2 linked regions of the Homo sapiens genome follow. The protein of the gene in region 1 binds, or shares a complex with, the protein of each later gene. Each region holds a gene or a part of one and is shown in the gene's direction. Other genes may lie near its edges.

Region 1 (7,021 bases):
GATACAAATTAGATGTTCAGAGAGTTTATCAATGTGTCTAAAAACCATCCAGGAAAACAACAGGCCAAGACTCTGCCTGCAGAGTCAGTGAGCTAGAAGAGGGATCGAGGATAGGAACTATATTTTTCCCCTGACCCTATCTCTTATCTGCTAGAGCAAAAGGAGACACACAGTAGGTGCTCAATAAATACATGTTAAAAAATATTTGTTGAAAGAAGCCACAGAAGGGAATATCAGTATACATTAGTATTGAAAACAGCCTAGGGGGAAATATGGATACTGAAGCACCACCCTCCTGTGCCTGGCAAGCAAGGCAAGAATAAGGCCATTCTTGGCACATACCACTTAGCCTGTTGCTGAGATAACTTGCGTGAAACCAGCACTTTACCCTCTGCCAGCCAGAAGGTCAGCCCAAGAGTGAGCTGATCTGTGGGCACAACACCATCTCTCACCCAGGAGGCTGGGCCCGCTGTAAGCTCTGCTATATTATTTCCCTGAGGATGACAGGTGGGGAAATCTGGGCACCAGTTGTTCTTTTCCACTGGTATCATTTGGAAGGTAGCTCCAAAGTCGGGCACGCCAGCCTACGTGCCTCTCCTGCCGGCAGAGGCTCCACATTGGAGCTATTAGAATGTGGGCTCTGTACGTCGGCCAAGTCCATGTCTCAGAGACTGTATCCAGAGCATAGCGTGGCCACAGGGCTACTGAGTTCAGCAAGAGAGTCATTCTCTTGTTCAATCCATTATTGCCTGGGCCAAGGTTCTAAGTCTTCGTAGGCAGCATTTGATTTTATGACACGTCTTAAAAAATTAAGGCAAACTGGAATTAATTTAGTTTTGAGAAAACAACAGAAGCTGCTACAAGGCAGAGATAATTCTAGGCTGCCAGAAAGTGGTGATCTCAGTGGTGTACATTTTCTTAATTCCTGATTTTCCTCTTTGTGAGGTCTTCCTCCCACTCCCATACTTTGCACATTCTCACCTATGCACACCCTGAGCAACACAATGTTGACAACTTGACTTAGCATTGCTCTTTTCTTAAGCTTTGTTTTCATTTCTTCTTCAATACAACAGTGTTGGTTCATTCAATTTGAACACTCAAGGCAAAAAAAAAAAAAAAAATCCCAGGTTATGTTTTCAGAATCTTACCTTTTTGTTTTTGTTTTGAGGGTTCTGTGAGTTTTGTGGCATATTTACATTGTTGCTTACATTCTTATTTCAGAATTTAAGATAAAAACTGGGCAACAACTCTCACGTTTTCTGAGTGTGTTGAAATGAAAAATCTGTTTCTTAGAATTAATGGTAAAGCAACATTTCCTGTCAATCTTTCATTCTTTAATATTACTTCTGGGTTCAGCTCACCATCTCTAAAGAGAAAGCCAGATGATCAAGTTACATTGTATGTGACATTAACTATCTCTTTATCTGTGTAAATGTCATAATATCTGCTTGCAAAGTGTTTTATTCATTTTTAGGAAAAAATTTTAAACTGTGCTTGCAATTCAGGATGGTGCTACTAGGTGGCAGTAATGTACAAGAACTATGTGGTCGCCCTGGAAGAGTATTTGACTAAGAGACTAGCATGCCTTCCCGTAATTATAAGAAATAAAAATATAATATTTTTAAAATACTCAAACTGGCACAAACAGTAAACATCCATTAACTTAGTTACCATATTTAAGCTGAGCTTTTAAAAGAGAAAGCCTTATTTTTTAATGAAATTTTAAATAAAGTATACATTCACAAGCTCAAAAATCTAAAAATACGAAAAGATATATAGTGAAAAGTCTTTCTCTCATGCCTGTCCCTCAACTACCACAGGTAACTAATTTTGTTAGTTTCTTGGGTATCCTTTCAGAGCTTTGCTATACAAATATGTGTTTTTATCTCTCTCCATTTTAACTCAAATCAATACATAGAGTTTCTGCATCCTTCCATATATAGTTGGTTAGTATATTGTTGTGTGAACATTTTAGAATATAATTAACCAGTCCCCTATTAATGGATATTTCATGCTGTTTCCAATTTTATGCTATTTCAGCCATGTGCTCATGTGATTTCACATGTAGGATAATTCACAGAAGTGGAATTGCTGGGTCTAAATTATATACATTTGCATTTTTAAAAGGTATTGCCAGATTGGCCTCTACAGAGTTTGGACCAATTTATACTGAACTTTCTCCAAAATGGACTTGTTTTCCCACAGCCTTGCCAATAGGGTGCATGATCAGACTTCGGAATCTTTGTAAATCTGATTGGTTGAACAATGTATTTCAAAGTACTTTAATTTTCATTCTCTTAAATGAGACTTTTATTCTCTTAAATTCTCTTCTATCTTTAAGGGCCCTTTATATTTCCTTTTTCTGTGGAGAAAGTGGAAATGCCAATAAATACAACGATGCATACACATGTATAGGGTTTTGTTATTGATGTAGCTTGTTTTTGCCATCATGCTGTACATGATGTTCTTTAATTTGCTTTGCTCATTTAACCATACCTCCTGGCCATGGCTCTGAAGAGAAGTTGCTGGCAGTGCAGAAGAAGGGCCAGGACTGGAATGTCTGCTTCTCTCTTCATCCTTTTGCCATTGACTCCTGGGGGAAATATCTGTAGACCGAAGCAGTGAAATCTAATCAATTCTCTTTCTGACACTAATTAAGGCTTCAAAGAGACAGATAACCACTTGGGATAATTTAGTCACAGTGAAACTTGGGAAATGGTCAGTAATATTTCATCCTCTGAAAGTGGACCCCAAGAAAGTTCTGGCTCTTTGAGTTGTTGTCTTGGTAATTTTCAGGGTAACGTGTATAGGAAAACCCAGATTATGCAGATGAAAAGAAAACAAACATGCTCTTCTGCATCCTTTGCAGATTTGAAACTTTGGGCACAGGTTTGATTTATTTCAATGAGATGTTGCTATTAGCATGAACATAAAGTGGTGCAAAGTTGTGCTGGAATATGGTCTCGTCAACTTTGGGCTCACTGTCTGCATATGGAGATGATAGTAACTGAATCCATAGTTATCAAGTGGTGGCATTTTAGAACACAAAGGGACAGCAGATGCCATCTCTGTCAACTCCTTCCCTCTACAGATGAGGAAACTTGGGCTAGAGGAGGTTGAATGACTTGTGTAAGGCTTCCCCAGCTAATTAATGGCAGTGCCAGGACTCAAGTCCAGGTGGGTTCCCTCATTACTGGTCCTTGCCCTTCCTGCAATTTATAGGACTTCCCTGAGGCACATGTGCTGAGGCTTTGCTATTGCCAGGGATTCTGTGCTCTGAAACAGCCCTATCTCACACACCCCTTTCCACTTAGGATCCCCTACCTCACACTTCCAAGACAGCTAATTGAGGCTAAATGGGTCTGATGCCATTCTATTAGTGCAAAATAAATTGGCTTATGCCAACTTGAACTCCTAATCTTGATTTTATCAACACTTTGCCCTGTTTATTCAGACTGTTCATGAGTAGGAAGTTAAGGAAAATGTTGCCTATGAACAAAATGATCAAACTTTTATCTGAAATACCTTTGAAAGTTTTCCCGAAGCTTTAATTATCATGTTCCTTTTGTTTTGGATGTAATAGCAGGCCCTCCCAATTTTCCTAAATGTTTGAAAATATTTTTGATACTTTCTGTCTTCTGTTGTGGTTAAAAAAAAGAAGGCACCAGTGTTGGCTATGCCTGGGGAGTTAGTGAGGTAATCTGGAGAGATCTCTGGACCCCAGTCCTTTGTCCAAGAGGTATGGTCAAAAGAACAAAGCAAATTTCAGAAAAACCGGTATAATATGATCCTATTTTAATGGTAAGTCTGTTCCAACAACTGCTTTCTTTTTCGAATTACACCATGTGCCCAGGCTACAAAGGCTCTGCAGAAATGTGACTCTGTTGGCAAATACGCGTGTGATACCTTAACCATGCTGGAGGCCAGTTAGCATAATGTGTATTTCAGATGCAGTTTGTCATCAGTGCTGGGTGCTATGGGGCTTAAAACAAAAACAGGATGAGCCTAGAGCACAGAAGTGGAAAATTAGGTGGGTGGGTGAGTATGGACTTGGAAATGGAAAATGTGCTTCCCTGTGGGACATGGCTTGTGTTCATTAGTGCTGACCTGCCTCCTCTCTAGCCCTGTAAGCTGACGCTGACACCAAAGCTTGCTGAGAAACTGAATAGACCCTCCCGCCCCGACCAACCAAGGACAAAGATGAGACCACCCAATTCGGTTACGTTGTTGCCAGAACAACATGTTTAATCTTTAACATGGGTTCAAACTATTCTTGGCCCTAGGAACATGGACTTCAGCAATTAAAGTCAACATGTGCTTCCATTAAACCATTGTGTCCACCTCCAAATGGTTATAAATATGTAGCATAAGCTATGGGAGTTGGGGTGGAATGGATGACAGCCTTTGCTAATGACGCTCTAGAAACCAATATTCTCCTCTCAAAATAACATGGAAAAATTCTACTTAATACCTCCTGGGTTCCATTAGTGGTTCTGGGTAAATAATTCTGGGGAAAGTAATTTCTGTTTTCATTCCAGCTGTGCAGCAGATACTGTGATGATGGATTGCAAGTGCAAAGAGTAAGACAAAACTCCAGCACATAAAGGACAATGACAACCAGAAAGCTTCAGCCCGATCCTGCCCTTTCCTTGAACGGGACTGGATCCTAGGAGGTGAAGCCATTTCCAATTTTTTGTCCTCTGCCTCCCTCTGCTGTTCTTCTAGAGAAGTTTTTCCTTACAACAATGAGAAAACATGTACTAGCTGCATCCTTTTCTATGCTCTCCCTGCTGGTGATAATGGGAGATACAGACAGTAAAACGGACAGCTCATTCATAATGGACTCGGACCCTCGACGCTGCATGAGGCACCACTATGTGGATTCTATCAGTCACCCATTGTACAAGTGTAGCTCAAAGGTAAGACCAAGGTCTCTGTGAGGAGAGCATTTCCCTCAGAAACAGGCAAGAAGCCATATTTCTTTGTCAGGGGATGGAGAACTAAGATCATAGCCCAAACTTAAGTGATGTGGCTGGCCCACAGGGCTTGTGGGAGAATGAGGCTTTTAGAATTTCCCCCCGTGCTTTGCACTGTTATCAGTAAAAGTGCCTAATCAATCATGTGCACACCCATCCAGTGGGACAGGTGTCCTTTGTCCCTGGCTGTGATGTTTATGAGTGGTAGTGTGCTTTTCCAAAAAAGAAAAATGGAGTTTACAAGTCATCATAACTCTCTAGCTCCATCATCAATAAAGAGGAAGAGAATGCAAAGAATGCGATTGAGCAGTGGAACATACTTCTTGGAGGGCTCTTTAAAGAGATTCTTGGTGAAATAACTGGCTTTGTGGTCTGAGCCTTTCTTCAGGTGCTACATTTCTGTTCAAATGATTTCAAAAGATAAGATGGCAATATGATCATTTATCATTTTTACATTGCTTATCCAAATCGTTCTCATTTGGAAAAGGATGCATGTTTCTTGCAGAGGCAGTCCGTGCCTCAGTGGTGTGCAAGGGAATATCATGCTTAAAAGGCCACCAAGAGTGGCCAGCTACATGGACCACCCAGAAGGGAGGCACATTGTAGGGTGGAACATACGAGATCTCACGACTGTCACTGCCCCTAAACAGGCACAATGAATGAAATTTGTCCACACTTGGTAAATAATAATTTGTTTAGCCCAACCTCAGAGATTTTTACATTTAGTTTTGAGATGAAAATCACTTAAACATTCTCGTATGGCAAGTAATTTTTGAAATTACCAGTATAATTAAGAATTTTTTATAGTATCAATCACCAGAATTAAGACCATATAAGCCAATCCCTCCACTCTCCATTCAAAAACATTATGACTTTTGTATGCCTTGAAAATTTCCATTAATTTCTCTGATTATAGCTCAGTGATGATGATTCATTTTAGTTTAGGAGGATCAGAATTCGAGTTAAATCATTTTAACCATTATATTAATAAGATCTATGACTGTGGGAAAAAATAGAGATTTTCCACTTAATAAAAACTTTCTGGCTCTTATTTGTGCTTGTAGAACCAAAAAAAAATGGAGTAAATAGATGAACATAAATTTTTGCAGGGCCACAATTCCTTCTTAGGAAAGGGAAACTAAAACAAATTGAGAAAAAACATGAGAAGTGCTTTTACAAGTGTGATTGCTCAGAAATTGTGGGCCCATGTAAGGTTGACTGCAGCAATTATTAGTTTCTCCTTCCCTCCCCCTTCAGAAACAGACAGCATGAATATTTAGTGATTTTATTCCATGGATAATTTCTTTCCGTATTGAGTTGTCCTCCATAATCGTGATTCTTTTTTAAAAAAAGGAATTAAAATTATTTCAAAGAAAGTGTCACTATGATGATAGAAAGGAACAAAGAAATAGGAGCATCTATAAAAACTAGAAAACAATCTGGAAAGACTGGACAAAATGATGGAGGAGTACTTTGGCAACAATCACATTAATCTAGCGAAGGTCAAAGAAGAGACATCATGAACTCAAACCGAAGAAATTCACATGTGAATTCTGAGCATGAGTCTTAGAAACAGACTTTAGTGTACTGTTATTCACCTTTGTTTCTTCCAGAAAGCCATGGCAAATAACAGCGCAAAATTGTGATAGCAGGAGAAATGTTTGTAATTTCATGGGAACAATCTGTTTTCAAACATCCCAAACTATCCCAAATATAGCAATAGTTTTATGTAAATGGTGCTTGCAATTATAAACCTTTCTTCCCTGGCCATAAAATATGCCTGGCAAAATCTCAACTACCCAGACCTTTTCTAGGTTAGATTTTTCTCTATGTATCCAGGAGCAAAACTGTTTTCATTTGGAAATGTTCTATAATTCTTAACTCTTACATTCTCGGGCTGATCTTTTCTCTAATGGGTCTCACTTAATGAAATTGTTTGCCTTTAGAGACTTGGATAAAACATTTAGCCTATGTCTAGAAAAGAGGCAACAACAATCTACCCTAGCTTCTTTTTACAAAGAAAAGACTGGGATAGATTTTTTTGT
Region 2 (7,510 bases), on another chromosome or scaffold:
AAGGGGAGACTGGAAATAAGAAAGCTCAACAAAATGCACTTAACCATAAAAAACTTGTTTTGCCCTTGGTCTCATGTCTTAATCTTCCCCAATGTGACTGTAAGCTCCTTGAAGGCAGAAACCACCTTTAACATGTCTGCATACTCCCTAGTACCCAGCTCAATGACATGTCCACAATAACCCATCACTAAATATTTGTTAACAGCTTGACTGATCAATTTCACTGAAACGAAACGAGGCTATGGAGGTAAAAGTGTGTTTGCATTATTTTTTGCCTTCCATGGAGGTTTTTGGTTGTTCATCTTTGCGTTAACTCATCACCACCAATAAATAAGGATGTCTGATGTACCATTTAATGCTTGCTAAACTTATGGGTAGGAAAAATTTTGAGCTTCTATTTCTTGACATGCAAGAGCTCTGTGGTGACAATTCTTCTCTGCTAGCTAGTGGTGCAATGGACTAAGAAGGGAGTTTGGCTCTGCCACTTAATAGGTATTAATCTCTTGGGAACTTTGATTCCTCAGCTCGAAGTAAGATCAGTGTTCCCTTCCACCTTACTCAGCAGGCGCACTTTTGTTTTATAACTAGTTTGGGTGCAGGGGGAGATGTAACACCCTATTTATAAATGGATGGAATGTGGCATGGCATCTTCTTGCTTTGCTTTTGTTGTTCCACAGTAAATTCCCAATACTTATGGGGTTTTAGTCCCAGTGAATTATTTCCCTCAAAAACCAGGCAGATAATAATGAACCACTTTCTTGCACTTTCCATCAAGACAGCTCTTTGTGAGTTCTAAATGTTCTATCTAGATTCAAAGAAGCTGGTTTCTTCATGAGTGGTTGGAATAAGACTTTTCTTGGAAGCTACTGAATATGGATTAGTTGGATTGTTTCATAGGAAATAAAAAGCAGGCTCTAGGGTAACTACTTCAGCACTTAATTGGGTTAGCAAAGAGCCGCAAATGAGAGATTTTCCCGTAGGAGGGAAAGGATGTTTATAGCTTCCACCCCCTTAGGTGATGCATTTTAACCTAAACATTACTCTTCCAATGCAGCCTTTAATTTAGTAAGCATTACAAGAATCTATTAGAGCAGAAAACGTCAGGTTGAAAAATTAACACATCACCGGAGTTAATAAGAACCCAGCCTCTTATTAGATACAAATGGAGAGCCCTCCAACTGCCCAACAGACTGTTGAAGTCATGTTTGTTGCAGCTCCAAAGTAGTTGAATCTTTACTGCTCAGAGGCTGGACCAAGGAAACTGCCCAGGCACTCAAGCCAGAGTTAGCAGGGGCCCATGGCCTACACTTTATTCAGGTGTCCCTATCTTTTCCTCTCAGAAATGCTGTGCATGTCACAGGGTGGATATCCCTCTGCCTGGGACTCCCTCGGGAAGTGTTTTCTGTAACAAAGACAAACATGCCATGCCTGTCACCAGGGGCAGATTGTGGACTGTGTAAACCACTCCAGGAGAGGGAGGCTGAGGGGCTCCAGGCCATTCAGATTTAGCTCTAAGTTATGGTCTTTGTTGTCTTTCCACATTCAGACTGAAATGTGATTCCCCTAGCTTTCTTTTTTGGAAAATACTGGTGATGAGTTCCACGACTAGAAAGAAAAGCTGTTGACAGAAAAAGCTTCTGATAGGGAAGGGGCTTCTTCATGTGTTCTCAAAGGAGACAATTGCTTCAAGCAAGCTGAGGCAGGATGCCAGGTCTAGGAATAAGAGGTCCAGATCACAAAATGGTCATCTTTAACTATGGATTAGGCTGGGCGTGAAGCAGTTTCCTCTGCAAGAGCAGTACCATGCACACAGAGTTTAGGGCCAGGCAGACATGCATGAGTTCTTCTCTACGACTTACTGTGTAATCTTGGGCAAACTGCTTGGCCTCTCAGAGCATCAGTTTCTGCAAGTTGTGAGAAATAAATAAAATTAAGAATGTAAGGCATGTAACACAGTGTCTGAAAGTAAGAGTTCTATATGAGTGGTTTGTTATTGATTTGAAAACAGTATTCCTTCACCCAGAACAAATGATGTTCCTTGTGTGCCAGGCCCTGTATGAGGGACAGGTCCTCCTCCTTGACCTCAGGGAGTTCACTGTTTAATAAACCATGTAACCATATCTTCAGCACAAAGCACACCCCACCACCACCACTCTTCCCTAGAAGAAGGGCCAATTGCATACTAACTACACTTTGTTGAGTAGCTACGAGTCTTGCAGGTCATCCCCCTTTGAGTAGCCCTCCAGACTCAGCCACTTCTACCTTCAATTCACCCACAATTCTCTATCTGTGCACTTAGCAAACTAAGTTATTGTTGTTTGTTAATCCTTTGTCTCCTCCTGTGAGATCCTAAAGGATGAGGATTATCTATTCATTTGATCTGTTCATCTGATTATATATTCATCTCTGTAACCCAAATGATTAATAGATCATTTGATCTCTACATCTGATCGTTTATTCATCTCTGTAGGCCAAGGGTTTTATGCATTACTCAGCACAGGCACACAGAGATTCAATCCTATTGCTGAGTACATTGATTTCCAGCTGGGAATTTTTTCTGGGAAAATAGCCCTGCCTTCCATCTTTGAAGAGCCTCTTCTGGGCCCTGGTTTGGTTGGTCTTGTCATTTTCTATTACTGTGGTTCTAGCCTCAGTTTCCTAATCTCTATAAGGAGCTAACGGAACCTCCTTCACTGGGAGTTTATGATGATGACTGGAGACAATGCAGCTTCTCCGTGTCCAACACAGTTCTAGGCACAGAGCCAAATACCAAAAAAAAGTTGATTCCATTTTTGCCCTCAGTCAAGTCTCGTTGCCAATATAAGAAGACTAAAAATACAAGACAGAATATGAGTGTCACATGAGTGGCACAGACATTCTTCCAACTTGCATCTAGCCTCTGCCATATGCCACAGAATTGGCTGAAATGGGAGGATAAAAACATGCATAAAACAGTGGCAAGTGTTGGACAAAAAGATCTCAGGAAGAGGGTGAAAAGCCTTTTACCCAGATCCTCATTCCGGGGCTGCTGGAGCTGTCTTTAGCACCAGGCTGGAAAGCAGGAGGCTGTCCCATAATTGATCTCCCCTAGCTGTTTTGGAAACACATACACACACACACACACACACACACACACACACACACACCCCAATCACCAAGTTCTTCAGCATTTATTATGTGTCAGACACTGCTAAATGATTTACAGGTATTATCTCACTGAACTCTTAGAACAACTGTGTGAGGTGGATATGAACTTCCCCACTTTACAGCCGGCCACTTTGAGGCTCAGAGAGGCACCATAGCTTCAACACAGTCAAGCAACAAGTAAACGGTGGAGGAATCCACCTGCTGGGAGTTTACTGGCCGACTGGAAAGCAGAGAGAGGGTGGACCAGCACAAAGCCGCGGGGGGCTGGTAATGAGACAGGAAAGTTGGGTTCAAACCTGGGTCACATGATCCCCAGATCCCTAGGAGCCGAAGCAGAAGCAAAGAAAAAAAGGGGTGCAGCCTGGTGGGGAGGGGGTGCCCGGGAGGCCGGGAGAGAGGAGTCACGGTGGTTGTGCGCCTTCCTCGTCCCCAGTGCACAGGTCAAGCCTCTCCCCTCCCGCCCTCTCACCCTCCCAACCTTATTTAGAAACCGTGTCCCCGAGACAGGAAGGGCGGCGGGCCGAGAAGCACGGAGAGTCCCGGTCTCATTTCCTTTCGAATCCCCCTGTGGAATTTCATTTCATACGGTGAGGAAATCAGAGCGCGAGACCGTCGGCGGGTCTGCAGCTCCGCAGCTCTGGGGCGCCTCCCCGCTGGCGGCTGGAGGTGGGCGGCTCCCTGCGCAGGTCGGGCGAGTCTGGGGGCGGGGAGAGGCCGGGCCCCGATCGCCGCTGGTCCGGAGTGAAAATAGCTGTGGACTCACGCAGTACCAGGCACCATGCTAAGCCTTCTACACTTTATCTCTAATCCTCCCAAGTGACTTTACAGAGGAGACTGACGCCGAGGGGTTGAGCAATTTGCTCAAGGTCACACAACCGGGACTGAAAGCCACAATCGGTGTAAATCCAAATCCCCAATTCTTTGTGTACGTTTCTCTGCCTGACGGGGAGGTGGCCACCGGCCTAGGTTACAGCTGAAAGGAGACAGGAAGGAAAGGGGGCAGATGGAACAGGGCGCACTTCTCACCTGCAGAAGGGGGCAGGACGGCGTGGCTGGAGCCACTGGGCTGCGTCCCTGCTTGGCCCCTGCGCGCCTAGATCCGGGTGGGAGGAAAGCAAGAGCCGGGAGGCGGGCGGGGCGGGGCGCTAGGGGAGGGAGGGAGGGAGGGGCGGCCGGAGGAGGGGGCCGGAGGGCGGGGGCCTGACTCCTCCTGCGGGAGAGCGGCCCCGCCCCGCCGCCTCGCCCCTAGCTGCCCACCGCGCCCGGCCATTGGAGAGGCCCGCTGTCCGTCCCGCCCCGCCGCCGCGCCGCGAGCCTCCAGCGCCGCGCAGGGCTCCGGCGGTGAGAGCTGCGCAGCGCTGGCTGCTGGCTGGCCTCGCGGAGACGCCGAACGGACGCGGCCGGCGCCGGCTTGTGGGCTCGCCGCCTGCAGCCATGACCCTCGCAGCCTGTCCCTCGGCCTCGGCCCGGGACGTCTAAAATCCCACACAGTCGCGCGCAGCTGCTGGAGAGCCGGCCGCTGCCCCCTCGTCGCCGCATCACACTCCCGTCCCGGGAGCTGGGAGCAGCGCGGGCAGCCGGCGCCCCCGTGCAAACTGGGGGTGTCTGCCAGAGCAGCCCCAGCCGCTGCCGCTGCTACCCCCGATGCTGGCCATGGCCTGGCGGGGCGCAGGGCCGAGCGTCCCGGGGGCGCCCGGGGGCGTCGGTCTCAGTCTGGGGTTGCTCCTGCAGTTGCTGCTGCTCCTGGGGCCGGCGCGGGGCTTCGGGGACGAGGAAGAGCGGCGCTGCGACCCCATCCGCATCTCCATGTGCCAGAACCTCGGCTACAACGTGACCAAGATGCCCAACCTGGTTGGGCACGAGCTGCAGACGGACGCCGAGCTGCAGCTGACAACTTTCACACCGCTCATCCAGTACGGCTGCTCCAGCCAGCTGCAGGTGGGCGCCCCCACCCCCACCCCTGGCGGGACCCCTTGGGGAGGGACGCTCCAAACTAACTTTGCAGAGCCCATGCCAAGTTGATCATCCTAGCCCGAAGGAGACAGCTCTCCTGGAAAAGTGATTTCCATCCCCACCCCCACTTTCTCAGGGACTGGAAGCCAAAACGTTGTGTAAGTCATCTGGCCTGGGAAAGAACCCACTCTTACACCCCGCCCTTCCGTTTTTCTCTCTTGCCCACCCATGTCTGGCCCAGACCCCTAACCCCAGTGGAGCTGAGGGTTATCTCTGCCAAGGATTCTGGCCGCCACTGCTCGGTGGGCGAGTGGGAGGGAGCCAGCTGCAGCTAAGACTTGGAGGGAGTGATAAGGAGACCATCCTTCACCGAACTTCCTTCTCCCCACTATTTTTGGGGTGTTATTAAATGAAACACTACTGCACCTTTTTCTGCTGAATAGCCCCTTCTCACGACGTCCCGCAGCGTTTTAGAGGTCATGCATGAAGGAGTGGTTGGGTTGGCTTGAGTTCTTTCTTATCCTCACAGTTGAAGGCACGTTTAATGCTTGGAGGGTGAGAAGAAGCTGCAGGAAGGTGGTTGGTATATTGGAAGAAATTTTTTTGCAGTCATTAAAAAATGTAAAGCATATCTAATGATAGAGAAAATGTTTATTCCACAGTAATAAGAATTTGCATATACAGGGTGATTATAATCCTGCAAAATAAAAAATTTATTGGGATAATAAAAGACTGACAGGAAAATTTTTAAAGTGTTAACATTGGTTATGTTTGGGTTGGTGAGGCTGGGTGATTTTTAGAAATTTAGAAAAGAGAGAAGTTGTGGGAAAAAGTAGACGTTAGTTGTCCAGGCTTCAGAAATCTGGTTTCTGGCCGGGCGCAGTGGCTCACGCCTGTAATCCCAGCACTTTGGGAGGCCGAGGCAGGTGGCTCACGAGGTTAGGAGTTCGAGACCAGCCTGACCAACATGGCGAAATCCTGTCTCTACTAAAAGTACAAAAATTAGCCGGGCGTGGTGGCGTGCGCCTGTAATCCCAGCTACTCAGGAGGCTGAGGCAGGAGAATCGCTTGAACCCAGGAGGCAGAGGTTGCAGTGAGCGGGGATTGCACCATTGCACTCTAGCCTGGGCCACAGGAGCGAAACTCCGTATCAAAAAAAAAAAGAAAAGAAAAGAAATCTGTGGTTCTGGCTGTAACTTCTGAGAGATAATAAACAGACATACAGCTTACTTACTAGGTGCATGTTTTTACATAGGTCATTTTAAAACTTGGTTTGTGGTTTTGGAAAGATGGTGGGGATTAGACCTGTTGCTGCTAAAATATCCCTTTGGAAGTTTCAGAACTTTAGAACTAGGTTATAAAAGCTTAAGAAATGATCCTCCAGCTCTCAGTTTGGAAACAGCACATATCCTGACATCAGTGGCAATTTGTTGGAGAAACAGCTTTTGCAGGGATATATATTTTTAATTACATGTATCCTGGGGAAAGCGGCCAAGCTGTTTTGAAGGACAAGACTGGATCCCTTTACATGCTGGAAAATAGTTACTTGTAACTCTAGACTTCATAGACAACATCTGTAAGGAGCCAAGCAGACTGTTTATCAATGCTGGAGGAATTGAGGACAGCAACTGGACTCTCCCCTGCTGGTACTGCAGTTTCAGCGACTTAACATTTACATTTTCCTATTGTGCTTCATTATTATTCATTGAGGAAACCTGGCCAAACAAATCCCTAGTGACCAGAGACCTCAATCTGCATCCCATCCTTGAGTCTAACAGTGTCTCATTTGGGCCATTTTTTGTTTCAGTATGGGACTAGTTTAAACAAATTTTTAAGGGATAAATTAGGGAGAAGAGAATACTAACAGGATCTACATTTTTTTTTAACTTTTATTTTTAAAATGATAAAGAAACGGGGATAAAAATAAACCACCTAAATGAGTCATATTAGTTTCTTTAGCTTTTTCAAATAGTTTCTAAAATGGAAGGAGATTGAAAGCCAGTTTTTTAAGATTTATTTCAAGTGTTGTGCAAAGAGGGCTTATGCAATTCTTCAGACCCTATTTATTTTATTTATTTATTTATGTACATTCTTCTGGAAAGGATTACTAAAGCCAAACTAAGAAAAGTATGTAAGTGATGGATTATCAGGCGCCCTTGTTTGAGGTCAGAGTAAACAGACAGACTCCCGATAGGTTGGTTTAAAAGTAGATACCTAGATTGCCTGGAAGCATTCAACTCAGCTTTGTGGGAGCATTTGGTCAAACTTCCAAGTCATTGTTTTTTTTGTGTGTGTTCATTTTGTTACTTTTCCAGTTCTTCCTTTGTTCTGTTTATGTGCCAATGTGCACAGAGAAGATCAACATCCCCATTGGCCCATGCGGCGGCATGTGTCTTTCAGTCAAGAGACG

What was found. The genes of interacting proteins can lie anywhere in the genome.
Region 2: the proteins of NDP (region 1) and FZD4 are in contact, whole or in part, in a crystal structure (PDB 5BQE), measured with the Homo sapiens proteins. Residues at the interface, in NP_000257.1 of Homo sapiens: Asp33 (codon at 4,842), Ser34 (codon at 4,845), Pro36 (codon at 4,851), Arg38 (codon at 4,857), Met40 (codon at 4,863), Arg41 (codon at 4,866), His42 (codon at 4,869), His43 (codon at 4,872), Tyr44 (codon at 4,875), Val45 (codon at 4,878), Asp46 (codon at 4,881), Lys58 (codon at 4,917), Met59, Val60, Leu61, Lys102, Lys104, Leu106, Tyr122, Leu124, Ser125; in NP_036325.2 of Homo sapiens: Ser51 (codon at 4,951), Met52 (codon at 4,954), Gln54 (codon at 4,960), Asn55 (codon at 4,963), Leu56 (codon at 4,966), Gly57 (codon at 4,969), Gln95 (codon at 5,083), Phe96 (codon at 7,416), Met105 (codon at 7,443), Thr107 (codon at 7,449), Lys109 (codon at 7,455), Ile114 (codon at 7,470), Asn152, His154, Met157, Cys158, Met159, Glu160, Gly161, Pro162.

The regions. Positions count from the first base shown.
Region 1 is NC_000023.11:43,956,370-43,963,390, reverse strand, and holds part of NDP (norrin precursor), read left to right. Parts: intron 1-2,496; exon of another isoform or gene 2,497-2,606; intron 2,607-4,538; 5' UTR 4,539-4,745; coding exon 4,746-4,919; intron 4,920-7,021. UniProt on the Homo sapiens protein: Activates the canonical Wnt signaling pathway through FZD4 and LRP5 coreceptor.
Region 2 is NC_000011.10:86,952,376-86,959,885, reverse strand, and holds the start of FZD4 (frizzled-4 precursor), read left to right. Parts: upstream 1-4,490; 5' UTR 4,491-4,800; coding exon 4,801-5,085; intron 5,086-6,975; exon of another isoform or gene 6,976-7,415; coding exon 7,416-7,510. UniProt on the Homo sapiens protein: Receptor for Wnt proteins.